Regions from separate parts of the Homo sapiens genome. Here all the other regions are linked to region 6. The links come from fine-mapping of genetic effects on gene expression. A gene starts in region 6. Each other region holds a variant in brackets. All regions are shown on one strand. Distances are from middle to middle.

The links. PIP is the estimated chance that this variant, and not a neighbour inherited with it, causes the effect.
Region 1: its variant is fine-mapped to the expression of NAIP in whole blood (TOPMed, PIP above 0.99).
Region 2: its variant is fine-mapped to the expression of NAIP in thyroid (GTEx, PIP above 0.99).
Region 3: its variant is fine-mapped to the expression of NAIP in whole blood (TOPMed, PIP 0.96).
Region 4: its variant is fine-mapped to the expression of NAIP in whole blood (TOPMed, PIP above 0.99).
Region 5: its variant is fine-mapped to the expression of NAIP in whole blood (TOPMed, PIP above 0.99).

Annotation. Positions count from the first base shown.
Region 1 is chr5:71,550,479-71,555,804 of GRCh38, reverse strand. It overlaps BDP1 (BDP1 general transcription factor IIIB subunit), which reads right to left. Exons shown (of 39, transcript NM_018429.3): 35 at 2,485-2,689. Among named protein-coding and RNA genes, the nearest start is that of MCCC2, 34 kb to the left of the region's middle. The variant TCTCCCC/C (reference allele first, on the strand shown) is at 2,965.
Region 2 is chr5:71,141,505-71,146,830 of GRCh38, reverse strand. No RefSeq gene overlaps it. Among named protein-coding and RNA genes, the nearest start is that of SNORD13B-2, 56 kb to the right of the region's middle. The variant CACAGGAGAAAAATGGCTGG/G (reference allele first, on the strand shown) is at 2,661.
Region 3 is chr5:71,481,504-71,486,829 of GRCh38, reverse strand. It overlaps BDP1 (BDP1 general transcription factor IIIB subunit), which reads right to left. Exons shown (of 39, transcript NM_018429.3): 8 at 2,934-2,988; 9 at 203-346. Among named protein-coding and RNA genes, the nearest start is that of BDP1, 29 kb to the right of the region's middle. RefSeq lists an enhancer at 3,134-3,428. The variant C/G (reference allele first, on the strand shown) is at 2,322.
Region 4 is chr5:71,458,990-71,464,315 of GRCh38, reverse strand. It overlaps BDP1 (BDP1 general transcription factor IIIB subunit), which reads right to left. Exons shown (of 39, transcript NM_018429.3): 3 at 2,390-2,499; 4 at 199-258. Among named protein-coding and RNA genes, the nearest start is that of BDP1, 6.0 kb to the right of the region's middle. The variant G/A (reference allele first, on the strand shown) is at 2,197.
Region 5 is chr5:71,367,055-71,372,380 of GRCh38, reverse strand. All of the region lies in intron 2 of LINC02197 (long intergenic non-protein coding RNA 2197), which reads left to right. Among named protein-coding and RNA genes, the nearest start is that of LINC02197, 77 kb to the left of the region's middle. The variant A/T (reference allele first, on the strand shown) is at 2,682.
Region 6 is chr5:71,023,028-71,028,353 of GRCh38, reverse strand. It overlaps NAIP (NLR family apoptosis inhibitory protein), which reads left to right and starts at 3,015. Exons shown (of 17, transcript NM_004536.3): 1 at 3,015-3,739; 2 at 3,948-4,036. RefSeq lists cis regulatory regions at 1,422-2,886, 3,252-3,465 and promoters at 2,887-3,251, 2,656-5,261.

The sequences.
Region 1 (5,326 bases), 530 kb before region 6:
ATGGGTTTGGGAGAGATACTGTCCCTATAAGATACCAAAGTGCATCATAAAGCTACAAAAATTCGGCCGGGCGTGGTGGCCCACACCTGTAATATCCCATCACTTTGCAAGGCCGAGGCAGGCGGATCATCTGAGGTCCGGAGTTCGAGACCAGCCTAACCAACATGGAGAAACCCCGTCTCTACTAAAATTACAAAATTAGCTGGGCGTGGTGGCGGCTGCCTGTAATCCCAGCTACTCGGGAGGCTGAGGCAGGAGAATCACTTGAATCTGGGAGGTGGAGGTTGCAGTGAGCTGAGATCACGCTATTGCACTCCAGCCTGGGCAATAGGAGAGAAACTCCATCTCAAAAAAAAAAAAAAGAATAAAGAAAACTACAAAAATTCAAACAGTATGATGATACTGGCCCCAGAACAAATAGGTGAATCAACATAAAAGAAAAGGAAGTTTTAGGAATATATCCAAACAAATATGAAGATTTACTGTCTTACTGATAAAAGCAGAATTTCCTATCAGTGGAAATAAGATGAATTATTCAGTAAACGGTAAAAGTCATATGAGGAAAATTAACTTGGCCCTATTCCTTACACCAAATCAAATTCGCAACAAATCAGTAATATTAACATTAACTAGGAAATTTAAGTCTCAAAGGACTTTCAATGTATAACATAATCTCCAGAAGCCATACACAAAAAGACTGATAAATCTGATTATGGAAAATAAAAAATGTCTTCTATCTGAATACAGTGTATGTGTATCCTACAATTTTGTACAGGCTGAGCATCCCAAAGCTGAAAATCCGAAATGCTCCAAAATTCTAAACTTTTTGAGTGCTGACATGACACTCAAAGGAAATGCTCATTGAAGCATTTCAGATTTTGGCTTTTCAGGTTTGGGATGTGGAACTGTTAAGTATAATACAAATGTAAGTATAATGCAATTATTCTAAAATTCAAAAAAATCTGAAATTTGAAACACTTCCGGTCCTAAGCATTTCGAATAAAGGATACTCAACTAGTAAAAGCAATTTTTAAAAAATTGTTAAAATGCTAAAAACAAAGTTTAGAAAATAAAAATCACAAATAAGCCAAATGGACATTATACTTTTCTTACATATTCACACCACTGTATAACTACCATTTTTTAAATGGCGTATCATAGTCTGGTGACCTAGTTTTGTACTTAGTAAAGTACTATGGTCTTTTGTCCATGTCATTAAAGATATTTTTAAAACAAAACAAAATAATGTCTGCATGGAATGCTGATAAATTATTGAAACTGGGTGACTGGTACATGGGGGCACATTATACCTAGTCTATCTTTTAATATGTCTGGAAATGTTCATATAAAAAGTTAATCCAAAAGTTCTGCATGAGAAAACAACAACAAAGAAAGCAGAGTCAAGAGACAATGACAAACTGGGAAAAAAGATTTGCAACTCATTACCACAGACATATATAAGAGTTCTTCCAGTTCTCTAAGAAAAAGATCAATAATCTAATTGAAAAGTGGGTAAAGGAAAAGTCAGTTCATAGAAAAGGAAATACACATGGCTCTTAAGCATATGAAAAGATGTTCAATCTTACCCATAACAAGAGAAAATAAAACAGTTCTGGGATATGCCATTTTTTTACTCACCAAATATATAAAAGCACACTTGCTCTTTGTCAACTATTACTCAAGAACTATTGGTCTTTAACTTTCTCTTTGAGAACACGGGTTTTAAAAGGACTTTTCCATAGTGTAGTTACAAATTATGATGAGTACTAGATGAGTATAAAAACAAGAGGGTACTAGGAAACCTACAACATAGTGGTTGGTGACTGAATTCGCATGGTCTGGCCGGACTTCCCTGAGGCACTGATGACTGAACTAAAGAAGTCTGTATGTTTTTCAAGGGAATGTTTCACACAGAAGGTACATCAAATGAAGTGTCCTGGGACATTTAAGGAATTGAAAGATGGCCAGTGTGGCCAGAAAGTGAGGCAGAAGCTGGCACAAAATGAGACTAGAGACAAAAATCAGCAAGACAATGTGGGGCACTAAAGGCTGTGGTTTTACTCCTAAAAGCAATGGGTAGCTTTAGGCATGATGATGATGATGATGATACTAGTATTATCATTTTACATATTAGGAAACCTGATCAGAGAGAGAGGTGAAGTATCTTGCCTAAGGTGTTACAGCTACTAGGTGGTAGAGCCAAGATCCAGACATATATAATGCTTTTGGTCTTATTTTTAGCCACCAATACAGAGCTGGGAATAAGTTTCTTGATTACTCTCCATCAATTTTCATTTACCATTGGTTAAAAGTGATAATCCAAAACCAGTTTTACTTGAATAACTTATGATGATAAATGTCAGAACTATCTTTATATATATCTAAAAGTTTAAAGAGAATAAAGGAAAAAATAGGAACAGATCTGTTGCAATATGGCCATCTTACTTAATGGCCATATTGAGTGGTACTTAATATACCACTTACCTCAGTGGTATATTCTTGACAGTCATCTCTTAAAGTGAGTGAACGTTTTTTGGCAGGAGGAATGTGGTCATTTTTATCAAGCCTGCATTGAAATCTCTTCCTAGATACAAGATCCAAATTATCAGGCGGCTTTTTAGAATTATCTCTTCCAGAAATAGATAAACCCATGGCATCTTGACCAACTGAAGTTGCTGGTAAACAAATACTGCATAGAAAAGAAATACATACTAAATTACTGAATTAGAAGTTATTTAACACTTTTTTTTTTAAAGGATCCTAGAAATCCTTCCAATAATAAAGTTAAAGGCTGAGGTATTCCAATGAAAATTCCAATAAAACCAAAAAACTCCAAACTAAGAGATACACGGCCATGGCCCCAAAAATGCTATTAATAGTTTTGAGCTCCATTCATACTTCAGGGCTTATAACTTAAATTCCATAGTATTGAATTAAATCTGAATATTACCCTCTCCCTCTCCC[TCTCCCC/C]ATGGTCTCCCTCTCCCTCTCTTTCCACGGTCTCCCTCTGATGCCGAGCCGAAGCTGGACTGTACTGCTGCCATCTCGGCTCACTGCAGCCTCCCTGCCTGGTTCTCCTGCCTCAGCCTGCCGAGTGCCTGCGATTGCAGGCGCGCGACACCACACCTGACTGGTTTTCGTATTTTTTTGGTGGAGACGGGGTTTCGCTGTGTTGGCGGGGCTGGTCTCCAGCTCCTAACCGCGAGTGATCCGCCGGCCTCGGCCTCCCGACGTGCCGGGATTGCAGACGGAGTCTTGTTCACTCAGTGCTCAATGGTGCCCAGGCTGGAGTGCGGTGGCGTGATCTCGGCTCGCTACAGCCTCCACCTCCCAGCCGCCTGCCTTGGCCTCCCAAAGTGCCGAGATTGCAGCCTCTGCCTGGCCGCCCATCGTCTGGGATGTGAGGAGCCCCTCTGCCTGGCTGCCCAGTCTGGAAAGTGAGGAGCGTCTCTGCCCGGCGGCCATCCCATCTAGGAAGTGAGGAGCGCCTCTTCCCGGCCACCATCCCATCTAGGAAGTGAGGAGCGTCTCTGCCCGGCCGCCCATCATCTGAGATGTGGGGGGCGCCTCTGCCCCGCCGCCCCGTCTGGGATGTGAGGAGCGCCTCTGCCCGGCCGCGACCCTGTCTGGGAGGTGAGGAGCGTCTCTGCCCGGCTGCCCCATCTGAGAAGTGAGGAGCCCCTCCGCCCGGCAGCCGCCCCGTCTGAGAAGTGAGGAGCCCCTCCTACCGGCAGCCACCCCGTCTGGGAAGTGAGGAGCGTCTCCGCCCGGCAGCCACCCCGTCCGGGAGGGAGGTGGGGGTCAGCCCTCGCCAGGCCAGCCGCCCCGTCCGGGAGGGAGGTGGGGGGGTCAGCCCCCCGCCCGGCCAGCCGCCCCGTCCGGGAGGGAGGTGGGGGGGTCAGCCCCCCGCCTGGCCAGCTGCCCCGTCCGGGAGGTGAGGGGCGCCTCTGTCTGGCTGCCCCTACTGGGAAGTGGGGAGCCCCTCTGCCCGGCCAGCCACCCCGTCTGGGAGGGAGGTGGGGGGGTCAGCCCCCCTCCCGGCCAGCCGCCCCGTCCGGGAGGTGAGGGGCACCTCTGCCCGGCCGCCCCTGCTGGGAAGTGAGGGGCGCCTCTGCCCGGCCGCCCCTGCTGGGAAGTGAAGAGCCCCTCTGCCCGGCCACCACCCCGTCTGGGAGGTGTGCCCAGCGGCTCATTGAGAATGGGCCATGATGACGTGGCGGTTTTGTGGAATAGAAAGGGGGAAAGGTGAGGAAAAGATTGAGAAATCGGATGGTTGCCGTGTCTGTGTAGAAAGAAGTAGACATGGGAGACTTTTCATTTGGTTCTGTACTAAGAAAAATTCTTCTGCCTTGGGATCCTGTTGATCTGTGACCTTACCCCCAACCCTGTGCTCTCTGAAACATGTGCTGTGTCCACTCAGGGTTGAATGGATTAAGGGCGGTGCAAGATGTGCTTGTTAAACAGATGCTTGAACGCAGTATGCTCGTTAAGAGTCATCACCAGTCCCTAATCTCAAGTACCCAGGGACACAAAAACAGCGGAAGGCCGCAGGGTCCTCTGCCTAGGAAAACCAGAGACCTTTGTTCACTTGTTTATCTGCTGACCTTCCCTCCACTATTGTCCTATGACCCTGCCAAATCCCCCTCTGCGAGAAACACCCAAGAATGATCAATTAAAAATAAATAAATAAATAAATAAATAAATAAACAACTAAAAAATAATAATAAAATAAATCTGAATATTTAATAGTATTTTCCCTAATTGTAAAGTTAAACGTTTAACCTAAAATGTCCCTTCTAGTCCAGGCGCAGTGGCTCACGTCTGTAATCCCAACACTTTGGGAGACCGAGGCAGGTGTATTACCTGAGGCCAGGAGTTTGAGACCAGCCTGGTCAACATGGTAAAACCCCATCTCTACTAAAAATACAAAAAATTAGCCAGTGTGGTGGCACGCACCTATAGTCCCAGCTACTTGGGAGGCTTAGGCACGAGAATCACTTGAACCCGGGAGGTGGAGGTTGCAGTGAGCTGAGATCACGCCACTACACTCCACCTGGGCAACAGAGCAAGATTCTGTCTCCAAAAATAAAAATATTAAAGTCTTCAATTTCTAATGCTACACGATGGACAATTATCTTAATTAATGGTAGTTAAGATATAACTTACTTCCAAAATAAAGAATTAAAATAAGAGTATCAAGAACAGCTGGGCACAGTGGCTCATGCCTGTAATCTCAGCACTTTGGGAGGCCAAGGTGGGAGGAATGCATGAGGCCAGGAGTTCAAGACAAGCCTGGGTACCAGAGCAAGACTCTACCTCTGAAAAA
Region 2 (5,326 bases), 120 kb before region 6:
AACCTTATTGAAAGATAGGATCTTTATAGATGTAATCAAGTCAAAATGGGATCATTAGAGTGGCCTGTAATCCAATGTGACTGGTGGCCTTATGAAAGGGGGAAATTTGGACACAAAAATGCCACCAGAAAGCACAACATATGAACATGAAGAAAGCCATCTAAAAGCCACGGAGAGATGTCTAGAACAGATTCTTCTTCACAGCCTTTAGAAGGAACCAGTACCTTGAATTCAGACTTCTAGCCTTCAGGACTTGAGATAATACATTTTTGTTGCTTGAGGCACCTAGTTTATGGTACTTTGTTATATAACCCTAGGAAACTAATATAAATGTTCAATCCATTTACATTTAATCAGTGATGTCAGTGTTGTTAAATCTACCATGTTACTATTTGCCTACTATTTTCTTATTTGGGTGTTGTTCTCTTCCCTTGGTTGTTGATATTTCTTTCTTCACCGGTTCAGTGTTACCTTCCTTAGAGTAAATGGATATTTTTCAATATTTCATTTTAATTATGCTATTGGCTTTATACCCTTCATACATGTGTTCTTGTTGATTCGATGTTCTTGGATCTCTGCATTGAAATTTTTCATCAAAATTTGAAAACACTGGCAATTATTTCTTCAAATATATTTTTTCTTTCCCATTTTCTGACTCATCCTTTTGAGACTTCATTTGTGTATAGGTTTGATGGCTTGATATCCCATGTCATTCAATCTCTTATTTTAATCATTTTCCTCTTTTGTTTGAGATTAGATAAATTCAAAAATGGTTTTCAAGGTTATTTGTCTGCTTTTCAGATAGCTGAAATCTGAGAGTATACCCTGCCAGTGACTCTTTCATTGTATATTTTGCACTTGTTACTTCAACAATGTTCATTTCTCAAAATTACCTTTTTCGTTCTATCATTGTGACAATATCTCCATAGTCTAAGGACATATTCATAATATATATCTGTTGATTTCAATGCCTGGGTCATTATGATGTATGTTCTATTGACTGCTTTTTTCCCCTTGATTATTTATTAAATTTTCCTGCTTCTTTGCGTAACTTGTATTTTTGACTAATACACTGTAGAAAATCTAGACGTTGTCTTCTTGTAAAAGGCCCTAAGATAGTCCTTTGAAAGCTGTTAAGTGGCTTCCAGATCCTTTTGATCTGCCATGCCTGGTTTCATTATTTGTTAATGAAAATCTCTTTCATTTTTGTTCTTAAAGATAGGACATAGTCTTTACTGAAAGAAATAGTCCTTGTTCTTAATGCCTGGAATATTCCGTAAAATATCTTCCCTGTGGCTAGTCAGTAACCCAAACATCTCCTTGTCCTGTTACTACTGATATCTTATTCCCACAGTATCTGCTTTCAGCAGGTCTTGCAGATGTTAACCCTGCTCAGGTATAGAGCAGCTTTTGACGAAATTGGTGCCAAATACTTATTCTGGCTTCTGTAGGCCTACCCCATGCCTCTTTTTCCTTTCCTATACAAATTTCAGCCACTTCAGCAGCTCTTAAATAACCACTTAAGCAAGTGTAAGCTATTTACAAATATCGATAGATAGATAGATAGAGAGAGAGATGATATAGATAGAGATTTAATTGTAATTTTAGATTCAGGGGGTATATGTGCAGGTTTGTTACAAAGTTATATTGCTTGCTGCTACTGTTTGGGCTTCCACTGATCCTGTCACCCAGGTAGTGAACTGAATACCTAACAGGAAGTTCCTTGGCTCTTGTCCCTCTACCCCTACCTCTTTTTGGAACCTAATTAAACTAAGAGCTTCTGCATAGCAAAAGAAATTATCAACAAATAAGCAGACAACCTACAAAATGAGAGCTTTAAGCTTTAATTTCTTCCTCTAAACTCATTATTTTTAGAGTCTGCCTCCTTGTTTAATGGGAGAAAAAGTGCCCCTAGTCACATTCTCTGGTTAAATGTGGTACTTACCTCACAGCTTTCTTCTCTCTTGAGTATGAAAAACTTGTACTTCTTGTTTGATGCATAAAATCTGGTTCCTCATATATGTTGCCCAGTTTTATCATTGTTTATAGTGAAAAGGCAAGTCCCTCCAATAATTCTATTATGGCCAAAGACTAAAGTGCCTCTGATATGACTTATGTCCTTCAGAAATTGCTTACTCTTTAGTCTGTTGGTAGAATTCTTCTCAACTTTCCATAGTTATTTTAATAAGTACTATATTTTCCTATTTCAATGGCAATTTGGAATAAAGGAGAAATAAATGTATTTGTTTGGTCCATCTTTGTGTATTCAAACTGTTAAGTCATTACTTTTCACGTCCACTACACATATTACTGCACAGTAATTCCTTGTTTACACCTATAATCTCCCTCTCCTGTTTTCCTAGTTTCTATTCAAGTATTTGGGGTAACTGATATTTCTTAAAACAATATGTATTCTTGGAAAGAGATGTTTCTAGAATCCCCTTCTTAGGTGACTTATTAGGAAAAATTATAAGAATAAGAACGAGAATAGAGAAGAAAAGTAATTGAAGACATCCACTTCAACTCTAAATCCCCCTAGGAGAAAAAAGGCTAGCACTTATTTAAATGCCCTTCTTAGGTGACTTATTAGGAAAAATTATAAGAATAAGAATGAGGATAAAGAAAAGTAATCGAAGATACCCACTTCAACTCTAAATCCC[CACAGGAGAAAAATGGCTGG/G]CACTTATTTAAACTCATCTAGGTTTTAGTTTTGCTGATGTTGTTTTTCCAATAATAATCCGTTTCAATTATTATAACAGCAATTTCAGTGAAATATGGTACTTACCAGCTAAGTTTTACACAGGGAAGCACTTTCCTAAACACTTCCCCATCCTTCTTCAAAGTTTGAATCCAAATCTTTTGTACTCCAGGGCTTATTTTGTTTTTCCTACAGCATTCTGCCTTTCTAGAATTAGCACTAGTTACCCTCAGGAAAAGCAAATACATGGACCCATAAAATAATCTTTGGAAGTCTTTCTTCTCCTGCTAGTTACCAAATTATAATCTTCTTATTGTAATAATAAAATAAAATAAAAAATAAAAAGAACTATTTTACTCTAATAAGTTTCCCATTAAGCTAAGCCTGCTTTTGTTGTATTAGAGATTAACATATGTAGACAGTGTTCTTTTTGACTGGAAATGGGGATTAGTTATGGTTCAAGTAATGCATAAACAAGATGTATTTTTAAAAATACGTCATATTTATGCATTATATTTAAGCAGCCATTTGTAAAAAGCTGAAACTTATTAGAAAGTGAATTCTTCATACTCATGTTTGTATTTTCAATGTTTAGGATTATTTGTTAGCTTAGGTATAGACTAGATTATTTTTCTAAACAAACAGGAATAAGAAATATAGGTAGTAAAATTTACATGACCTGGTAAAATTTAAAATATCCATTCTGACTAACAGGCAGTGATGAGAACAATAAATAAAATATATCTTGGTTTAAATTCTAAGTAAATATATTTGACAATATAAATATAAACATACTCATATGAGTGAATTGCTTCTAATTCTGGCTTTTAGCTAAATAAGCACTTAATGCTAGTAAGAAAAATACATTATTTCATAAAGATAACAAATTCTTTCAGAAATAGTAATTATATTTTTAAAGAGTTTGGGGAAAATAGAAGTGTATACTCTAATCTTATAGCAAAGTTTCTGCTAAGTTTTTGTGATGCCAGTGTTTTCATTATGAATCATTTCACTGTCAAACAAAATGTACGCTGTTGATTAAACACAGGCAAAAAGAGACGGAAAAAAAAAGGTATATTAAAAAAAAGACCTTTGGTTATTCTGGCTGCCACCAATTGCTTTCTTGTTTCAGCTGAATTTTGAAGTAGCTAATCATATTTTGGCATTTTCTTGTCATCAAAGCATTTCGTGAAATTATCCCATTACAATGTTTTTCTCAGAGGCAAAATTAACATGGTTGACAGTTTAATTGACATATTTCTTTTTCGTTGTGTGCCTTTGCCAATTAAACAAATTGCACCCTATTTTGATGTTCATTTTGTTAATTATTTGTAAAACTGTAGACTCTGATTTTTTTTTTTTTTAATTTTCAGGTGTCAGTTTCTTGGTCGGGAATGAAAATAGTGCCAACCTGTGATACCTTCACTCTAATTTTACTTTCTGAGGAAGTTTTCTGTAATAGTTATTTGGTGATAATTATTAATACTGGTGAGTTTTAAAATTTTTGCTTTCAGCAATTTTCCATTTTTTTCAACATACTTATATCGCAATGAGGCAACCAAATATGAATCCTGAGAATGAAGATGGAAAATGAATATTTTAATCCAATATCGAGTTGTTCTTTCAACATTTTTAGTTTTAGTTTTAATCGAAAATATAAAGTTACATAATTGTGTGAGGAATAATTTTTGCAGAGAAATTTTTAAAAATTCACAAAAGGAAAAAGAAACCTTTACCATGAGTCTATAACATTGAAAGACTGTGTTTAAGTTATTTTAATAAAGCCAAACCAACACTTTCAGCAGGAACTAAATGGCAGCATCTGATTTCACGCTGATACATATGTATTAGTGTGGTGCTCACTTTTACCCTTCATTTTACCTTGGGTCTTGCCATTTTCTTTCTTTTTATTTTTATGTTTTTTTGTGTTTTGTTTTCTTCTGGAGGAGGTAATTTTTAGGGAGAAAAAAAACACTTTTTCCTCATAGGTCGATTTAAAATGTTGGCCTTACCTTAATCTCCTCTCTCAAACTCAATCCACTATGTAATGGGTCAACATACTTTTCTGTGAAGGAGCAGATAGTAAATATTTTAGTCTTTGCAGGCCATATGGTCTCTGTTGCCAGCTCTTCCATTGTGGTGTGAAAGCAGCCATAGACAACACAGAAATGAATAAGTGTAACTGTTCCAATAAAAACAGATGATATGTTGAATTTAGCTCACAGAGTTTAGCTTGCTGCCCCTGCAGGAGGCCTTTGGAGTAAAAGCTTCCTGAGAGGAGGACTTTTTGTCTTTTTTGCTCAAGTTCTAGCTCCAGTACCTAAAATAGTGCCTGTCACGTAGGTATTGATGAATATTTGAACCTGTTGAACATACACCTAAAATAAAACATTTGGCAAGATACAGTACTACACAATTTGGAGAACACTTGGCTCCCATAGAAATCAAAGCCTTCCTGAGTAATTAATTATTTGGCCTGATGATGAATTACTGTGCCTGAGATGATAGAGCTAATTTATTTTTCAATTCACTCAGGGGACACACGTTATTTTCACTGTGAATTTGGTTAAAATGAAAAGATTTCCTGCTCTAAGTCCTGGATAGACCTTTATGTAATAGCATACTCTT
Region 3 (5,326 bases), 460 kb before region 6:
CACGCCAGTTAAAAATTTTAAAAGAAAGCTATTGTTTTGGACCAGATAACTAGTTGATTGAAAAAACATATACTCCCTCCAACTGGATGCTTTGATGATCTTAACTACCTGAGCTACACATGAACTCTCAAAGGCCTGAGGGACAATATTGCAAGTTTATTACTACTAAGTAAACTATCACACTTCCTTTTAAAATCAATACCTTTTACATTTTTCCGTGGTTTGGTGGATTTCTTCTCCTTTAAACTGTGATTTTTAACAGATTTTTGTTTTCTTTTCTCTTCTTCAGCAAGAACTTTCTGAAGCAAATGAGCAAAAAAATCGAAGTCAAAAGGGCGCTTTTCCTCTGTTTAAAGAAAAGGAAAAGAACTTTCAAGTTTTTATTTTTAAAAGCTACTTCTAGCTTTTAAAGTATCATAACATCAAAAGCAAATGGGTTTGTTTATCAGTAGGAGAACAGAAAAACAAATACACAACAGAACACCACTCAGCAACAGAATAGGTTGGTCTTAGCAGGGAAATAGATTAGTTCACATCAGAACACCACTCAGCAACGAAACAAATAAACTAGTTTATTACAAATAATAATTTATTACAAATTTGTAATAATTTGTTTATTGCAAATAAACTAGTTTTAAACAAAACAAAAGGAACAAACTACTGATACATGCAATAATATGAGGGAATCTCAAAAACATACTGAGTGGAAGAAAACAGATACTAGGGTACATACTATATGATACCATGTATAAGATATTCTAGAACACACTAAGCTATCTATGGTGATTAAAATGAAAATAGTGGTTGCCTTGGGCCAGGAGGACAGCATTTGATTGTTCAGAAAGGGACATAATAGACCTTGTGAAGTGATGAAAACATTTCCTCTATTGTTTGGGGTAGTGATTACACAGGCATATTCTTTGTCAAAACTTGAACTACACTTTGAGCTGTGTATAAATATAAATCAATTTTTTTATGGACTGAGAAGTCCTTGAAATGCCTGTTCACCACCATATGCCCTACCTTTATCACAACCATTTCACCATTTACTCTTATAAGTATCAGCAAAGTGGGAAGTAAATGAATTTAATCAGGAACATGCCCACTAAATACCTATCAACAGCATTATATCTGAAAGTAATCAGTGAACACTCCAGGAATGAATCCAGACCAGGAGGCAAATCCTTGCTTGAACTTAAAGTCAATGTAGAGAAAATGGTGCTCTATGCACATAAGCCAAAGACTGGTTTGATTACAAGATAGCCTCAGAAAAGAAGGTATATACTAAAATAAAAAGAATCTCTGGAAACTAAACCCAAATCTGGGATTCCTGAAGACCCTATTTCACTGTTGACCCAGACTTCATTTGTTCTGACTCTCCACAATGATTCTGAAAGACATAGCACTCAAAGAATCATAAAGGATCTCCACATGGTTCTCAGAGAAATTCAAAACATAAGTTCTCTCAAAAAACTTATATAGGTTTTAATTTAAAAAAAAAATTTCCAATAGAAAGCCTCCAAATCAATGAGTTGTTTCTAGTTTTGAGATAGGATCTTGCTGTGTTGCCCAGGCTGGCCTCGAATTCTTCGGCTGAAAAGATCCTCCTGCCTCAGCGACTCCTGAGAGTAGCTGGGCCTATAGGCATACAACACTGTATCCTGTTTAAGATCAATAAATTTTAAAAATATCTATTATAATAGTCTATAAAAATGCTTCACAATCCAAATAGACTGTTTATAGATTTACGAATTATTTTCTGACTATAATGTGTTACACTTAATGAAGTTTCAGGACCACTTCTCTAATATGGAATGGGCTGAGGAGCACAATATTCCAGATCTTCTAAGAGCCATTCCTCAAAGCAGTTTCCCTAAAGACCCGATAAAACACTGGGTGTAGGATCCACCCACCTACCTTAGTGTCTACTCATAAAATAAATATACATGCTACATAATGTAGGTACTCTCTACATTTGGATTTTTTTTTTCTAAAATTAGCACTATGGCTAATCTTACGACTAAATGGACATTGAATACATTTATTAATCATAAAATACTGATAATTGTAAATCCACAAAAAATATATTCCTGTCCACAGCTGTGGTGAAAAAAAGACCTATCTTGTAATCAAAAAATACAAGAACTATTTTTAACAGTAAATGTATTTTTCTTTATAGATCCTTTGATATCTTTCTCTAGACTTGAAGAAAAATATGTTAATTTTAATGAGGATTTTAGTTAGAAATTGCAAGATATCTATCATTCCTTCAGATGAGATCTAAATTCAAATGCTAGTGTATCTCTTCAGACAGAACTTCC[C/G]TAATGATCCAATGATCATTAGGAAAAAAGAGACCTAAACATCCACCCTCTCTTTTTTCTTCTTTTTGGAAATGAATCACTACCTAAAATTATGCTTATCAACTATATTTCTTCCGCCATCCAATCAGACTTAAGGTTCTAAATGCAGGATTCTCATCTGCCATTTATCTTCCACCATTACATGCTCAATACCTAGAACAATGACTACCATATAGTAGGTGGTCAGTGTTATTGACTGAATGACTGATTAGTCATTCAGAACCAGAAAGAACCATCTATATAACTAATAGTACTGTCTTCCAGAAACAATGATCTCCTCCCATACAGTTCCTTCAGAATAAATAACACTTAGAAGTGGTAGCATCAATCCCTCCATAACTTCTTGGACTTAGAACTGTTTACCTGCACCTAGATGTTCTGGATAATCTCCTGCCAATATATTTGTAGCAAGTGCCAGACCCATACTGCTAAACAGAAAAATTTCAGACTGCTTCCTCTTAATGCCAATACAGGAACAAAACAAATCTAAAACACACTAAAGCCAAAGACAAAAGACTGGTCATTTTTTAGGCTCTTCAAGTAATACTTTGTAAAAGAGGTCTTAATACTTACGGAATGCTTTGTCTATTCTCCATCCATTTGTTTTCTCTTCCCGTTTAAATTTATTCTGTTAACAACAAAAAACCCTATGGTAATTTTCTCTCATAAAACAAGCATTTTTTTTTAAATGCAGTAAGCATTAAAATGAAACTCTTAGGAATAACATACTGCTCTCTACTTAATATGTCTTTGCCAATAGGCAAGTTACTTAAACCTTCGGCTTTTTAAAAATAAGGATGAAAGATTTTTACTGAGCTTCTTGATTCTCATTACCAATAGCATGAATCAGCAATGGAAGCTGGATTTACAGAGGACAGAAAAAAATAAAGTCAACAAACATGAAAGCAGATCAAACCTATGACTAAGCTCACTGGTATTAACTTTTAAAAAATTAAGTATTCGTAACAGGTTAAACCTCTGACATCATTGTTCTAATATATTTCAAGTAGCATGGAGAGAAGACTATAGAGAAACAACTAAGTGAAATTTTGAAGCAGGCCAAGTTTATCCTGACAAACTTCTATATATTAAGGCACATTTCCTCACATTTTTCTCAGCCCCAAAAATCCCTGTCCTCAGTTTACTACCAGATTACTTCCATTAAGAGGGAGATGTTTAAGGCTTAAGGCTCAATCCATCCTAAAGTCATTAGGAAGACTGAGGGCATAAGTTTGTGTCTGAAGACGTCTGATCACGCAAACACATCGTAGGAGAGGAAACAAACAGCCAATGTTTCCCATCTACACGTCAGTGATCTACAAGTTTTTATTAAAAGCACAAAAATAAAGCTTTTTAATTGCAAAAAAGAGAGAGAGAATATCACATAAAACAAAGGAAGTACTTCATGCCCCCTTCCTCCCTTCAAAAGAACTTAACCACTAATATGACTTGTAAAGCAATCACTTTCTTGTATTTCCTTATTGTTTATGACCCAAGTGTGTATTCTTAGATGATACAGTTTAGCCTTGCCCATATTTTTAAAACCTGATATGACATTAACATCTTTTAATGTACAGGTTGCCCTTCTTTCCCATTCTTTTGTTTTTCTTCACAAAACTTATTATCAATACAGAAGTTTTCAAAGATAATCTTATTTCTGCCTTAAAAGATCATACTGTTATTTAAACATTTCCTCAAAAGTTAACAAATGTTACCTCCACAAAAAATGATTGGCTATAAACACTAAATTAAATGTCCTAAAAGAAATATCAATAGGCTTCAGGCATTTAATTCTAAAACAGTGCTACCTCATATTTTACTTAATTGGTAATATAATTCAGAACAATTTAAAACTTTCTCAAAGAAATATATTGAAACTAGTCAATGATTTCATAGGTAAGAACCAGTAACAGGCCAAATTCCATGATCACAAAATAAATCCCATAATTTCCACTTCTGGCCTTGGCAAAGTAACTCATTATGGACAGGTCCTACATATCCAACTCCACCACGAATGACTTTTAACACTGACAAAATATATGCATCAATTATTTTCAAGCAAAGGACAATAGTGAGAGCAAGACTACAATCACGGAGAGAAGGAAAACAGACAAGATGTGCCCATGTTTACCTTGGCTCTCTGCCTGGGCTCAATTTCCTAACCAAGGAAAGGGAGGTGAAGGCCAAACAGGGTACAGCAATCCAACTAGGCTGCAGAGGTAGGGAATCTTTAGGAGCATAGTTCTAAAAAGGAACTGTGTAGAGGGGTACCTCACAGGCCTGGTGGAAATACCCCATGATACCTTGGCCTAAGTATGGGTTGCATATGTCCAGAATATAAGGCTTAAAAGAGAACAGCTGCTAAAGCCATGAAGGCAGAAGGAAGATGCTAAAAGTCATAAAACACCATATGACAATAGAGTTCAGGTGCATCCTAATGGAAAGACCTCATTAATACCCAAATACATTCACCTCAGACACCAGAAAGATCACCATTAGAGATAAAAACGATACCCTAGAGTAGCCTTTCTCTACCAGGGATGTAGCATGAGAATTAAGTACTAATGCATTAAAGCAGCCACTGTATGCAATGCATTCCCTTCTCTCACTTATCTATTAATAGTATAGTATTAGTATAACCATCCTTAGAGAACTTAGAAAATAATAACTCATGCCTACCATGAGACTGTTCTGGGAAAAGAAGAAAATAATAAAATATAATAGTAATTCAAATTATTTTCTGTAAATCAGATGAGAAATCCCATTGGAGAAAGGATGTCCTAGATTAAAGACCAGTCTAGATCTGCCTCAACAAAGCTTTAAGACAAGCCTTAACAGGAACAAAGAAGTTGGCAGTACATTAACAGTTTTCCAGAACAAAAGTCAACACTATTTTTTATTCTGTTTTGTTTATTGAAACAGAGTCTTGATGTCTTCCAGACTGGAATGCAGTGCTGTGATCACAG
Region 4 (5,326 bases), 440 kb before region 6:
ACTATGATGCCCAGGCTGGTCTCAACTCCTGGCTTCTGGCAATCCTCCCATCTTGGCTTCGCAAAGTGCTGAGATTACAGGAGTGAACCACTGTGCCCAACCCCAATCAAATGTAATTCAACTATAACAGGAAGCACCATTTGATCTCATTTCTTAAAAAATGTAGGAATAGAATATATTCAAAAATAAAATACTTACTCTCTTGTCTGGACTGGAGTCGATGGCTTTTCAGTTTTCTTTTCTTGTTCCAGTGAAGAACTATTGAACATAAATAACAATATCTTTAATAAATTATTAATTTATATCTTCCCAATTCTATCTGTAGGCAAGAAGAAAATTATTCTAACTTCTAATTTTTAATGATATATCACAGCATTTCGTTAATGACAGTACAATCCAACAATCAACTTTTCAGTCAAAAGCTTGTCATCACATACAAATAATTTGTTAGGTCCTAAGTAAAGAATACTTTTTTTTTTTTTTTTTAATACAACAACAGGGTCTTGCTGTGTCAGACTGAAGTGCAGTGCTGTGATCTCAGCTCCATGTAACCTCTACTTCTTGAGCTCAAGCAATCCTCCCACCTCAGCCTCCCACGTAGCTGGGACTACAGGTGCATGCCACCACACCAGGCTAATTTTTGTCTTTTAATTTTTTGTAGAGACGAGGTCTCACCATATCGCCCAGGCTGGTCTCAAACTCCTGGGATCATGCAATCCTCCCACCTTAGCTTCCCAAAACACTGAGATTACAGGCATGAGCCACCACGCCCAACAGAGAATGTTCTTATCCTCTAACTTCTCAGTGAAAGGAGGCTCCCAATCCCAAGGCATGAAGCAGCTTACTTAGGTGACTTGTCTCCAACTCCTGGATGTTAAACAACTCAAAACCTAGGTTTCTGGCCCTTTCTTCAACAGGGCCAAAGACCTGGTGAATCTGAAAAAGGGCTATGCTGAGGAACTGTCCCAACTCCTACCTCTACCTGCTAAACCATCAACAATACAACAATGAGATTTATTATAAACCTGCCTCAGAAACCCCAGGCTAACTTTAATAAAGAAGCTTTGTTCTTGGAGGATTTATTAATCACACTACTACTGTCTTTATTAGAAGGCAGGGCATAAAACTTGGATCACTCCTTTAGATCAGTTTATAGTATGTTAAAAATAGAAATTCCAATCCTTTCAAACATTTTTTTTTTAAATGAGACAGAGTCTCGCTGTCTCCCAGGCTGGAGTGCAGTGGTGCAATCTTGGCTCACTGCTGCCTTGAACTCCCAGGCTCAAGTGATCCTCCCACCTCAGCCTCCTGTGCGCCACAATGCCCAGGTAATTTTTGTATTTTTTGTAGAGATGGGGTCTCACTACATTGCCCAGGCTGGTCTCAAACTCCTGGGCTCAAGCAATTCTCTCGCCTTGGCCTCCTAAAATGCTGTGATTACAGGGATGAGCCACCTCGCCTGGCCAAAATTGCAATCTTGATTACAGAAAAGTGGCTTAGTTGGTTTCACTATGCCTTGGTAACTAATATAACAAAGAAAAAACATTTTTTTTTTTGAGACAGGATCTCGCTCTGTCACCCTGAGTGCACCCAGAATGCAGTGGCATGAACATGGTTCACTGCAGCCTCAAATGCCAGGGTTCAAGCAGTCCTCCTGCCTCAGCCTCCCAAATAGCTGGAACTACAGGCACATGCCACCATGCCTGGCTAATTTTTGTACTTTTTGTAGAGACAGGGTTTCACCATGTTGCCCGGGCTGGTCTCAAACTCCTGGACTCAGGCGGCCCACACACCTTGGTCTCCTAAAGTGCTGGGATTACAGGCATGAGCCACTGTGCCCAGCCAGGAAATTTATTTTTAATCTCAGAAATAAAGGGCATAATCTACCATCCCCAGAAAGCAGTTACTTGAAATACTGCTACTTTTTGTTATGAAATTCTATTTAAAAGGACATATGTGTTCCAAATTTTGTCAACATGTTTTTGGAAAACTAAAAAATTTACTATAAAAGTGCTATTTATATAACTACATACCCAAATAAAGTAAAACAGAAGGCCAGGTGCAGTGGCTCACGCCTGTAATCTCAGCACTTTGGAAAGCCGAAGCGGGTGGATCACCCGAGGTAAGGAGTTTAAAACCAGGCAAGCCAACATGGCGAAACCCAGTCTCTACTAAAAATACAAAAATTAGCCGGGT[G/A]TGGTGGCGAGCATCTGTAATCCCAGCTACCCGCGAATCTGAGGCAGGAGAATCGCTTGAACCTGGGAGGCAGAGGTTGCAGTGAGCCAAGATTGCACCACTGCACTCCAGCCCGGGTGACAGAGCGAGACTCCACCTCCAAAAAAAAAAAAAAAAAAAAAGAGATAGTAAAGCAGAAATAAATTTTACTTACGTCATTGGATTATTATCTGGTAGATAATATATGAAGTCTCTCATAGTCATTTTTGAACGATCTGGTGGCCTCTGACTTTCATTTATAGCATATTTGTTTTTCCATTGTTTCTGTATACATAAACACACAGATCCACTTTTATAAATATTAAAGAATTTCAGATGTACTATATGCAAATATACAGTCCACTGTTGCGTTCACTGTAAGTGCTTTAATATTATTCTCACCCCAATTATGTAATTTTGTAGATGGAATATTAAAAAGTTGTAGCACATTACCCTCAATAGCTTTTAGTTTTTATTTATCTACTTTTGAGATGGGGTTTTGCTCTGTCATCCAGGCTAAAGTGCAGTGGCGCAATCATAGCTCACTGCAGCCTTGAACTCCTGAGCTCAAGCAGTCCTCCCACCTCAGCCTCCCAAGTAGCTGGGACTACAGATGCTTGCCTAACACCTGGCTAATTTTGTGGGGTTTTTTTTTTTTTGGTAGAGATGGAGTCTCCCTACGTTGCCAAGGCTGCTCTCAAATTCCTGGGCTCAAGTGATCCTCCTGCCTCACACTCCTAAAGCACTGGAGTGAACCACACACCCAGGCAGTATTTAGATTTTAACAATTAAAGTGACTAGGACTAGATAAAAGCTCAATGTGGCCAGGCACAGTGGCTTATTTCTCTAATCCCAGCACTTTGGGAGGCTGAGGCAGGAGGATCGCTTGAGCTCAGGAGTTACCAGCCTGGGCAACATAAATGAGACCCTATCTCTACAAAAAAATACAAAAAAATTAGCTGGATGTGGTGGCATATGCCTATAGCCACAGCTACTTGGGAGGCTGAGGTGGGAGGATCACTTGAGCCTGGGAGGTTGAGGCTGCAGTGAACTGCAATTATACTAGCGCACTCCATCCTGGGTGACAGTGAGACCTTGTCTCAAAACTAAATAAATAACCAAAGAATAAAACTAATAAAGCTCAATGTATAAAATGCTTACTGATGCCTTCTAACTAAACATCTTAATAGCTCACTGAGAATTTATGCTTACACAGCTTTTTTTTTACCCTGTAGTGACTTGAAATTCTGTGTATTTTGTAAAATTCTTGAAGCAAATGTTTAATCTTTAATTCCCCAAAATAAATTAAATAAGCAAATAAGCAGTTTCTGTAAAATACAGAACTTTTTTTTAATCCCCCCACCCCCAATTCCCAACCCATAAAACATTTTTAGAGGCTTTGATCTGTCGCCCAGGCTGGAATGCAGTAGCACAATTTCAGCTCACTGCAACCTCCGCCTTCCAGGTTCAAGCAATTGTTGTGAGGCTTACATTTTAGAAGACATAAATTGAAAGCTTGTTTTCTCCTGTGTGAAACAGTGATATCTACTTCACATAGTTGATATAATTACATAAGATAACAGATATAAAGCACCAAGCAAAATGCCTTCCCTTAATTTAAAAAAAACTAAGAGGCATTTTATAATTCATAACAGAAGCTGACACTGGTTGGACACTTACTATTTTCATGACACTAGTTTTTTTGTTTGGTTGGTTTTTTTTGAGACGGAGTCTCGCTCTGTCACTCATGCTGGAGTGCAATGGCACGATTTTGGCTCACCGCAACCTCTGCCTCCCAGGTTCAAGCGATTCTCCTGTCTCAGCCTCCTGAGTAGCTGGGATTACAGGCGTGCACCACCACAACCAGATAATGTTTGTATTTTTAGTAGAGACGGGGTTTCACCATGTTGGCCAGGCTGGTCTCGAACTCCTGACCTCAGGTGATCCGCCCACCTCGGCCTCCCAAAGTGCTGGGATTACAGGCGTGAGCCACTGCACAAGGCCCAAGACACCAGTTTAAGTGTGTTTTACATGTATTGACTCATTTAATCTTCACAACCCTCTAATGAGCTAGATAGAGGTTGAGCATCTCTTATCTGAAATACTTGAGACCAGAAATGATTCACATTTTGGATTTTTTCACATTTTTGAATACTTGCAGAATACATGCTGGCTGAGCATCTCTAACCTGAAAATTTGAAATCCAATATGCTCCAATGAGCATTTCCCTGGAGCATCACTTTGGCACTCAAAACATTTTAGACTTTGGAGCATTTTCAATTTCAGGGATGCTCAACCTGAACTATTATTGGTCTATTTTACAGATGAGGAAATAGATTAATTAAATTACCCAAGGTCACAAAGCTAGTAAAGAAATGAAGCTGAGATTCAATCCCTAAGTATTTAACTCCAGGGCCAGCATGCTCTACTGCTGTTACCTGCCCTTCTAGAAAAGAAATCAATCCTCAAGATTAAAAAGAACATGGACTCTAATATATGCATAACACAAATTTTTCCCACTTGTAATTTTCCATAGTCAATTTAGAAAACATTACCAATTCATTCTGCTCAACTATATTCGTCTTTTTTTTGGAGACAGTTTCACTCTATCACCCAGGCTGGAATGCAGAGGCACAATCTCGGCTCACTGCAACTTCCACCTCCCAGGTTCAAGCAATTCTCATGCCTCAGCCTCCCCAGTAGTTGGGATTACAGATGCACGTCACCAGGCCCAGCTAATTTTTGTATTTTTAGTAGAGACAGGGTTTTGCCATGTTGGCCAGGCTGGTCTTGAACTCCTGACCTCAAGTGATCTGCCCCCCTAGTCCTCCCAAAGTGCTGGGATTACAGGCATGAGCCACCACGCCCGGCCTATACTTGTCTTAATTCAAATAAATATATCACTTATCACTTGGACATCTTTATGTGAAAAATCAGACTGAAGGTTTATTTTATAAATATGTTTGTGTATGTGCATCTATGTGTATGCGTATGAAACTTATTTGTGGTCTTCACCAAAAACAGTGAAAACATAAATAAATAATGTAAAAATTACTATCAGTGAAAAATGTAATTTAAGTCCACGGTGTATCAATCAATCCATTAACAAGAA
Region 5 (5,326 bases), 340 kb before region 6:
CATGAACAGCAGTTTGCAATTGACATTGTTTCATTCAAAGCTAGTATCTTCATGTACATTCATGAGTCCAACATATATATATATATCTACGTATATATGTACACATATATATTCAATTATATATATAATTATACATATATAATTGAAACTCAATAAGATAAAATGTGTCATGTCCAAAATTAGAGGGAAATTTGACAGCAAAACAAAAGATTAACTAAAATCTTTGTCTCTATGATGTTAAAATTAAGATCCTGCAGATATGACTCAAGACCTATTTGATCTTATTTGTATTCAAACATGCATCTGATGTGTTAAAATTAACATAATTTAAAAAATGCTTCCATCAAATTCAAGAAGAATTCATTTAAATAACCTTCTGATAAATATAAAAGGAAGACATTCATTTTGTTTTTTTCCCCAACTTTATAAAATATCAATTATTATGGCCACTTTGGGAGCAAATTTTAAGAAAGAAAAGCAACTAAAAATGTCACCGACATTGAAAAAGACATTTAAGTGATACCTACTTGTGTGTTCTGAATTGGTTTTAAATATAGTTTTAATCTTTCTATATTTTGTATTATAAAATAAATATAATTCTTTCATATTTCTAACACTTTCACATTGCAAATGAGGTACATAGGCCACTTTATTGATGAACAACTTTCAGAACCTAAATCTTTAAAATTGCTGAGCCAAGCTGCAACACTAAAATACATTATCTAAATTGTGCATGAAAACAATAAAAGACCATGAGTACTATTTTTTAGTACTACAAGTCAGGGAAGATTAACTTGAATTTAAATAACAAATAAAAGTTACCACAAAGGGAGCAAGCTTTTAAACTGTGAAATAGCTCTAGCTCTACAGTAGAAATCTTATGGTTTTCATATGATAATTTTTTTCAACATATCTTTTTCTATTTTTTAATTCAAAATGTAAAAGTAAATTATACCTCCAAGACCATGTTTTTCTCATTCTTTGTTTCAACAAATTGCTGATCTCTTTCAAAACTGTCATTTTCTGAAATGAGCAGTAGTGTACACAGAGAAATAAAAGAGGTTATCCAGAGAAATTGCAGGTGCTTCTCCAGCCTAACCTTAATGACAGTTTATTGCTGGTCCATGGGGCCCAGTTTTGTTTAAGCAATTATCAGACTGCTTTATTTATGGCGCCCTTGTGCCTGTTTTTGGCAATGGGGTCGCAATAAATTATCAAAATAACGTTAATGTTACAAGAATAGGCTACTTTAAAAATAGGTGGCACCAATTACAATTGAAGGAGAATAGTTAGATGAAGATTTAAATTATGCCAATTGCTCCTGGGAAATTGATGGGATGGATCAAGAGGATCTTCCCTGACTTCTAATACATGCATGCGCAGGGTTATTTCTCACAATTAAAATCAGAAATGTTAAAGGGGAACTTACAATGAAAGAGAAAGCCAATTAATCTAGTCATCATTAATCACTGAGAAAGACACAGTAGTATACTTAGTAAGTGTCCTAAAGCAGCATCCAGAGAGAGGGAGAGAGACCATCAATCCCAAAAGACTCAAAAAATCTTTAGGGAGATGTAGAATTATGCCAATAGTTTGCATATTATAACGATAAGACAAAGCTGGGAAGGCCTGTTCTGATATAACTTGCATGCACAGTCACACACCTGGGACCACGTAGAATTTACTACTAAAACGTGAATGGCAATTAATGTACAAAATATGAAAAACAAAGTTCAAACAATATGTGTTTGCTGTCAAGATTACTTCTAAGAAAATTTGTAAGGCAAGTTTTGAGTTGTAAGAGGCTCTTAGAAATAGAAACTGTGCTTTGTAAATCATACTGTAAGGCCAGATTAAAGAATTTCATAGAGAGATATTCACACTTAAGACTAACAAATGCTTCGATTTTAGAATAATTCATGAATTTGCTATTTTCTTCATGATGTCAGCTCATGTTTGGTTATTTGCTACTGATCATTTCATCTTCCCTTGCTTACAATTCCAGAATCATTTTATTAATTTATTTAATTATTTATTCATTCATTTATTCTGCTTGGTCAAAGTTTCAGGTGTTAAATGATATAGGCTTCATCACAATAGCAGATTTCTTCCCACTTTTGTTTATGTCTATCTGATTATGGTATCAGCATTATTTTTTCTTTCCAACTTTAGAGCTACAATACTCAGGTAAAGTCGGTCCCTGGGATTTAAAACTCAAAATAATTGAATAATATGACACCACAGTGGTAGAAACATGCTTCTATTAATATGAATAAAACAGAATCACAGGGTAAATGCACATATTAGACTTTTGTATGTGGTTGATTATAATGTATATATAATTGAGGATTGACCAAAGCATGGGTGCAATTAGGCATACAAGTTCTTCTTCATAATGGTATTTTTAGTGCCAAATATAGGTCTCCAAAAGGTTCTTGGTGGGTATACTTATTGTGAGATGGCATGATTTGTCTTTGATGCACACTACCCCATGTTAGAATGAGCTGTTTCATTTGGGGACACAACACAAGTAACAGCTCATCTGCTCTCATTTACAAGAGCTTCTATGTAGTAAAATTGAGAGTTGTGTTTTTTTCCAGCGAGTTCAATTATTTAGGGTAACCTCACTCCACATGGAACTCTTCCCCCAGATGTCCATGTTGTCCATATTGACAACTCCT[A/T]CCTTCCAAAATGTTTGTTGACTTCTTACCTTCTGGTTGAGCCTGCATTTGCCTCCTCTCCTTCCACCACACCTACCATCTTAATTTCTTTTTTCCTGCTCTACTTCTCTTATTTTTCATCACATATTTCTTTCAAATCTGCAATATAACTTACCTATCCATTATACTTATGACTTATTTGTTACTTTCTTCTTCAGGGTCAGATTTTCTTCTGTTTAGTTTATTCTTGAATTCCAAAGTGTTTGAGAAAAGAACTGGACCATAATAGGTACTGTGAAAGCTGATTATTTGAATTGGGGCATTCTCGTCATACCCAGTGAAAACAGAGTCAAGAGGGCAGGGGCAAAAAGCACTCAGGACACAAAACATTGCTCTCCCAAAATGTAATTCACTGCAAGTCTGGCTGCTGAAAGTGCCTGCTGTAACCTCACAACTGTTTTATCTAATAGTTGCCAAACAAACCTGCTACAAATCTAAGATTTACTTTACCCACCATCAGTCACCAGTCAGACGTTCCAGCTTCCCAGAACCTTACCAATGCTAATGAACTTTCTCAAAGAGCAATAATTAATATTTCTTTTTTTAGTAAAACCTCCAGCCTTCTCTTCATTCTTCAGACATGCTGAAGACCACTCGGTCTGAATATATGCCCTGATTTGCAAATTATTTATTTCTTAATTAAATGTTAAATTTAGAGATTCCTCTTTACATTTCTATTTTGACTTCAACAGTCCTCATTAATATTTCCTGAATAAATGAATAAAAATATCAGAATTAATGTGCATTTTGAAAAATCTCTTATGAAATATGAGAGAAAAATCTGTTATACGCTTAGATCCTTAACTTGATCGGTATTCACCTTGTAATATGCTTTTATCTTATGTAGTCTGGTTTTAAAATGTTAAGGAAAAAAATACACTTAAAAATGGACCTAGTCATTTTTACTCAGCAGTACCATATCATTTGAAAAACGAAAACACTCTAAGGCGGTTTTGTTCCTTTGTTTTTGTTTGGTCTGATTTTCTTTCTTTTTTTTTTTTCCTTATGTGTTCAGCCTCTTTAATGTGAATAACTGCTCTTAGTTAAACAGTCTCACAGCATCCACTTACAGTCTCCAAGTTGCTTTCACATTCTTTGTAAAAATAAAAGCTCAGTTAAAGACACTACTTTCTTTTATGGTGCAATTTGTTTGCTCTTACACTGGTTCACTCTCTTTGCCATTTGATTTCCTCAGTTGAGCAATTTATGACAGATTTTTAAGGTCTACTGTCCATTACAAAGAGCAGGTTTTAAAAACTCCATCATCATCATAAGCTTAATGAGTAAATGGCTGGAAGCTCAGCAGCTTGGTGGGGGGAGTGTGTGGAGGTTTGACTCTGACAGCCAACTTGCTGTTGCTGTAATTAATAATGAAATGTTAAGTCTCTTGCTTTTTATGTGGAGACAGGGAAAGTGACAGGGATTATGGAGAGAAATAAATTTACATTGTAGCTTTATAAAGCATCCATAGCTTTAGGAGCTCAATATATACAAAATTACTGTTAACATGACAGTTCCCCAAGAAAGTAGTTACAAAAATATTTAAAGCTCTGGGCTGAAGAATCAGGACATTGTAAGAATGGAGAGGAAGAAAAGACACTTTCTTGTATCCTGTCCCTCCTTTCCTGCTGCTCAATTTCTTTCTACTCAGCTGCTTATAAAAAGATGAAAGATATGCTAACTTGTCTCCCTGAGTGAATCTATTCAATGTCACCACCCACGCACTTTCCAACAGTGACAAAAGTTCCTATCACATTCCTCTTCTCAACTCACCTGATGGATCCCCCAACTACACCCCACCCCCTATCCTAGAAAATATTATATTAAGAAGTAGAAGAACTGTGGGATTATCTGAATGAGACCTGCCAGTGAAGTCCATATCACTGACTATTAAGTCATGTTTACCACAAGCTAATAGCCCATAGCTCAAGCGGAACGCTCACCATCTCTAGCCTTGTCCTTCTTCCAAATCAGTGCATGTAGGCATGTGCTATCTTTGCCTATTAGAAGTGATGGGTAGAACTCTTCATCTACCATTCGTGGAATCTGAAGATGGTACAAGGTCATGATGGTCACGCTAGCTTGGTAAACTGGTGGAAAATTAAGTGCAGGCTCTCATAATGAAACAAAATATTATCTGAACTGAAGCATCTTGGATACTGTTCTCTGTAATTCTTCTCCCATTTGCTTATTTATTCCTTCTTGTTTTCCCTGTGCAAACTGCATCATTGCTAATATGGCTACTTGATCAGTGGTAGTTCCTCATCTTCCACCATTATCCCATTTCAGATCTATCTAAAAGCCTTACTTGTGGATAAGAATAACCAAAAAAAATCAAATTAACTAGTTAGATAATGACTGTATCTATCTTTTATGCTGAATTAAAATAACATGATTAAGTGAAGACTAGCATACTTTATTTTAACCGTTCACTTCATCATCGACAAGGGTATAAGTTTAATTATGTATATGTACATGTAATTATGTATAGATGTATAGAATACAAACAAATTTAACCATTTTACTTATCCACATGAAATTGCTTCTTTTACATGCAGGATGACTTGTAAATACATTCATAATAGAGAAATTGCAGTGGTTCTGAC
Region 6 (5,326 bases):
GTCTGAAAACAAACAAACAAACAAACAAAACAAATCTCAAACATGGAATTATTTTTTCACTTCTCTCTTTTGTTTTGTTTTTTTTTTTTTTTTGAGACAGAGTCTCGCTCTGTCACCCAGGCTGGAGTGCAGTGGCGCGATCTCGGCTCACACTGCAATTTCTGCCTCCCGGGTTCACACCATTCTCCTGCCTCAGCCTCCCGAGTAGCTGGGACTACAGGTGCCCGCCACCACGCCCAGCTAATTGTTTTTTTGTATTTTTAGTAGAGACGGGGTTTCACCGTGTTAGCCAGGATGGTCTCGATCTCCTGACCTCGTGATCCGCCCGCCTCGGCCTCCCAAAGTGCTGGGATTACAGGCGTGAGCCACTGCGCCCGACCTTTTTCACTTCTCTTAATGCTCTGTAAACATTAATGTATTTATATATGTACTTAGAATTTTAAAAAATCAATTTTATTGAGTTATAATTAACATACAGTAAAAATGCTCCCATCTTGAGTAATTCCATGCCTTTTGACAAGTGTTCTGTACCCATGCCATGACCACCACAATCGAGAGAGAACATCTTCATCACTCCAGAAGGGCTCCTTTGCAGTGAGTACTCCCTAGGAGTTCCAGCGGCCGGTGACATTGATCTGTTTTCTGTCACTGTAGATGAGATTTGTCTGTTATATACAATTTTTAAAAATTAAATGATATGTATGGCTTCTTTTGCTTAGCATAATGTTTTTGAGCTTATTCATTTGTTGCATATATCAATACTTTGCTTCTTTTTACCACCTGTACTTCATTTATGGATACGTTGTTTATCCATGTGTTTATCCCCAATGGACATTGGGTTGTTTCTGATTTTTTGGTTATTATTATGAATAAAGTTGCTATGAACATTATTGTATAAATCTTTGTGTGTTCATGTGTTTTCATTTTTCTTGGGTAAATATGTAGGAATGGAATTGCTAGATTGTATGGCAAGAGTATACTTAGCTTTCCATGACACCAGTGAACTGTTTTTCCAAAGACATTGTATTAATACCATTTTACATTCCCACAACTAATGTATGAGCTTCCAGTTGCTCCATATCCTCAACTAACAGTTGATATTGTACAATACAAATGTTAACTTTTAGAATATCTTCACAACTTTAGAGTAGATAGTGATTTCTTAGGACACAAAAACTATCAATCATAACAAAAATTAAAATTGGACTTCATCAAAATTAAAAACTTCTTTTTGAAAGACACCATTAAGAAAATGAAAAGATGGTTAACAGACTGAGAGAATATATGTGCAATGTAAATATCTAACAAAGGACTAGTATGCAAAATATATAAAGAATCCTTATAATTTAGTAATAAAAAGGAAAACACGCAATTTTTAAATGGGTCAAGAATTTAATTACGGCCAGGTGCAGTGGCTCACACCTGTAATCTCAGCACTTTGGGAGGCCGAGGTGGGTGGATCACGAGGTCAGGGGTTCGAGACCAGCCTGGCTAACATGGTGAAACCCTGTCTCTACTAAAAATACAAAAATTAGCTGGGCGTGGTGGTGGGCGCCTGTAATCCCAGCTACTCGGGAGGCTGAGGCAGGGGAATCGCTTGAACCCAGGAGGCGGAGGTTGCAGTGAGCTGAGATTGTGCCACTGCACTCCAGCCTGGGCGGCAGAGCGAGACTCTGTCTTTTAAAAAAAAAGAAAAATATTTAATTACCTTACCAAAGAAGATACATGAATGACCAATAAGCCATTAAATTAAAACTTCAGTGAGTATACACATATGCCCTGAAGTAGCTAAACTTTAAAACACTGCCCTATGTGTGTGTACTTTTTAGCTAAAAAAGTGTTTGAAAACAGTATTATTTTGAAACTCAAAATTCCAAATCCTCTCTTCAAATTAGGTAGTAGTGTCACTGGAAGTAAAAGAGAAGTTACTTTAACTGCTAAAGAGTATCCACTAAGAATCTACATCAAACATCATGTTTAATGCTCAAACTTTAGAAGAATTTATACCAAAAGTCAAGAATAAGATAGGATATCTATCTTCATTATTAAGCAACATTATATTAGAGGACCTAATCAATGCAACAAGGCAATAAATAAAAGACAAAACTGTCATAATCAGATACTACAAACATCTAAGAAAATTCAGGGGGATTTACAGTCATATATTAAACAGTCCAGAAGGAGTCCTATACATCATCAATGAATATTGAGAATAAAAAATAGTTTTTAAAACCCCTCCAATTTATAAGGGCAACAAAATGTACAAGGTACTAAAATAAATGTAATGTGTATTTGGGTATAAATACAGCAACATAATGAAAAGGTTTATTGGGGAAAAAATTACAGGGAGAAGGGTCAACAACGTGAAGAGGTTCCCCTGCCATCTGGACTTCTGGAAAAAGACCTGCTGGTCTAGGCACAGCTGGATGCACCATGGAAAGTGGTTCCAATAAACACTGGCACTGTAACAATTGTGTATGTTGATACAAAAAGAGGGAGCCAATGAATACTTGGTCGATTATTTAACAATTGCTTCTCTGCTGAAGAAATGGCCTTGTTGGACTAGAGCTTAACTGTGGTTCACATACTAATGCTGCTATAACAGCTAGAAGCCTTACTAAGAAATTTGCTAAACCACCAAAAAGAGGAAATGAACCTTCTAGGATATCTGGATTGCCTTTTCTTAAAAATCTAGTCTTGGCTGGGTGCTGTGGTTCACGCCTGTAATCCCAGCATTTGGTGAGGCCGAAGTGGGCGGATCACGAGGTCAAGAGATCGAGACCATCCTGGTCAACATGGTGAAACCCTGTCTCTACTGAAAATACAAAAATTAGCTGGGCGAGGTGGCATGTGCCTGTAGTCCCAGCTGCTGGGGAGGCTGAGGAAGGAGAATCACTTGAACCCAGGAGGCTGGGTTTGCAGTGAGCTGAGATCACGCCATTGCACTCCAGCCTGGCAACAGAGCAAGACTCAGTCTAAAAAAAAAAAAAATATATCTAGTCTGTATGGCAGCACAACATCAGGTAAAAGTACAGACTAGCCAGATCACTGGTTAACCTTAACCCCTATGTGCTTGAGTTTCCTTATCTGTAATATGGAGATGATATAGCAATAGCTGATTTTGGACTGTTAAAGGAATTAAGTGGACACATGTAAAGTGCTTAGAATTGTGCCTGGCAAGTAGTAGGCTGCAATATTGTGATATAATAAATATATATATTTGATCTTCATCCAGTTCCTGGCACAGATCTCCAGAAACCCTTGTAATTTCCTGAGTGACAGGGGTGATAGAAACATCTTTTATTAGAATACTTGGTCTTGGTTCCTGACACAAGAGCTTCTAAGACCTTTGGAATCTCCAAGTGATAAGAGTGTATGACAGTGAGCTAACTGGTGGCTGGGATCCTTTAGACAACTTCAGGATGGGGGCTATCCCCTGAAAGACTAAGGCATGATTAGAGGTCTGGGATTTGCAGCCCCACGCCTCGACCTCCAGAGAGGGTAAAAGGGCTGGAGATTGATTAACCACCAGTTGCCAGTGATTTAACCAATCATGCCTAAGTGATGGCACCTCCATTAAAAAATAAACCACAGGTTTGGAGAGCTTTCGGTTTGGTTAACCCCAACCACATACCAAGAAGGCGATGCACCTCAAACTGCATGAAGACAAAAGGTCCTGTGCTCACCTGGGACCCTTCTGGACGTTGCCCTGTGTACCTCTTCGACTGCCTGTTCATCTGTATCCTTTATAATAAAGCAGTAAACATAAGTAAAGTTTCTGAGTTCTGTGAGCCATTATAAGAAACGATCGAACCTGGGATTTTCCTTTCGGAAGCCGCTCTCTCTCACAAGGGAGAGAGCTGTTCTCCTTTTTCTTTTGCGTGTTAAACCTCCGCTCCTAAACCCACTCTTCGTGTGTATCGTGTCCTTAACCTTGTTGGTGCGAGACGACGAACCCCGGGTATTGACCCCAGACAACAATGCCACTTCATATTGGGGACTTCGTCTGGGATTCCAAGGTGCATTCATTGCAAAGGTGAGTAAAGGGGCGGACCTCAACTCTGTCCTTTGATTTCGAGGCTCTTGGCCTCCATTTTAGAATCAAACCAAACCAAATACTGGGCCCCCTTCTGCTTCTGTGAATGAGAAAACTCTGCCTTCACCAATTAGCCATTTAAAAATTATGAGCGTGGCTGCCAGCCTTACAAGTTTTGGGGGACAGGCTTGCTGGGGAGAACATGGAGAACCCCCCAATACCCACGGGCTGCTGGGCATATTGGCCATGTTTGAACCAGTTTCCTTTCACGGAGGACCAAGCTGTCGTGTGGGGCTGGAAGAGGTCCTGGAGCAACTGAGGATTTCTGGCTGGGGCTACCTCCTGGTGCCATCCGAAGGCTTCTGGACTGACCCCAGCCTCCGGCCACCCTAAGGGGTGTCGGCAACAGGACCTCCAACTTTCCTATCATAATTCCCTCATTTCCTATCCACGACCACCATGTCTCCTAACCTCTCTCTGTATGCAGTACTGAGGGAGTTTTACAGTTCAGGGAAGTAATCTTGTTAGGCAAGAACAAAGACTGCTGTAGTAACCAGGGATATAGCACAGGGGCATGCTGTTGTGATTTTCTAGGAACAGAGGGTCTCCTCTCCCACCACAGTGAGCGTCACTCTCTGCCCTTGCTCTGGAAAGCACATGGCATGTCAAGGTCACTCTGCCCTTTGTCATAGTAAGATTAGGGTGGGGCGCCCAACCTTCCCCGCGTGCTATGTAAACGTCACACCTGTTCAAACCAACCTGTGGGCTCTGCGCAAATCAGACGCCGCCTCCTCAGGCCTACCTATAAAATCTGGTGCAGTCCACCGCAGGCCGGATTTTCCTTTCGGAAGCCCCTCACAAGGGAGAGATCTGTTCTCGTTTTTCTTTCTTTTGCCTATTAAACCTCTGCTCCTAAACTCCCCCAACCCCCAAGAAAGAAATTATCGAACCTGAGGGGGTTGCAGATACCCATGATTTGTAGTGAACTCAGACAGAAGTGTGGGTACCCTGAGGTCCTAATAGTTGTGGCTGGCATCTGAAGTAGGGGGCAGTCTTGGGGGCTGAGCCCCTAACCCGTGGGGTCTGCACTAACTCTGGTTAATTAGCATCAGAATTGAGTAAAATTGTAAGACACTCAGCTGCTGTCTGTGGAGAATTGGAGAATTGGTTGGTGGAAAACCCATATATTTGATGTCAGAAATGTGAGTAGAGAAATGGTTTTTCCTTGATAGGCTCTATGTAAATTTTAGTTCATGTTTTTGGTAATAAATACACAATATTACTGATTCT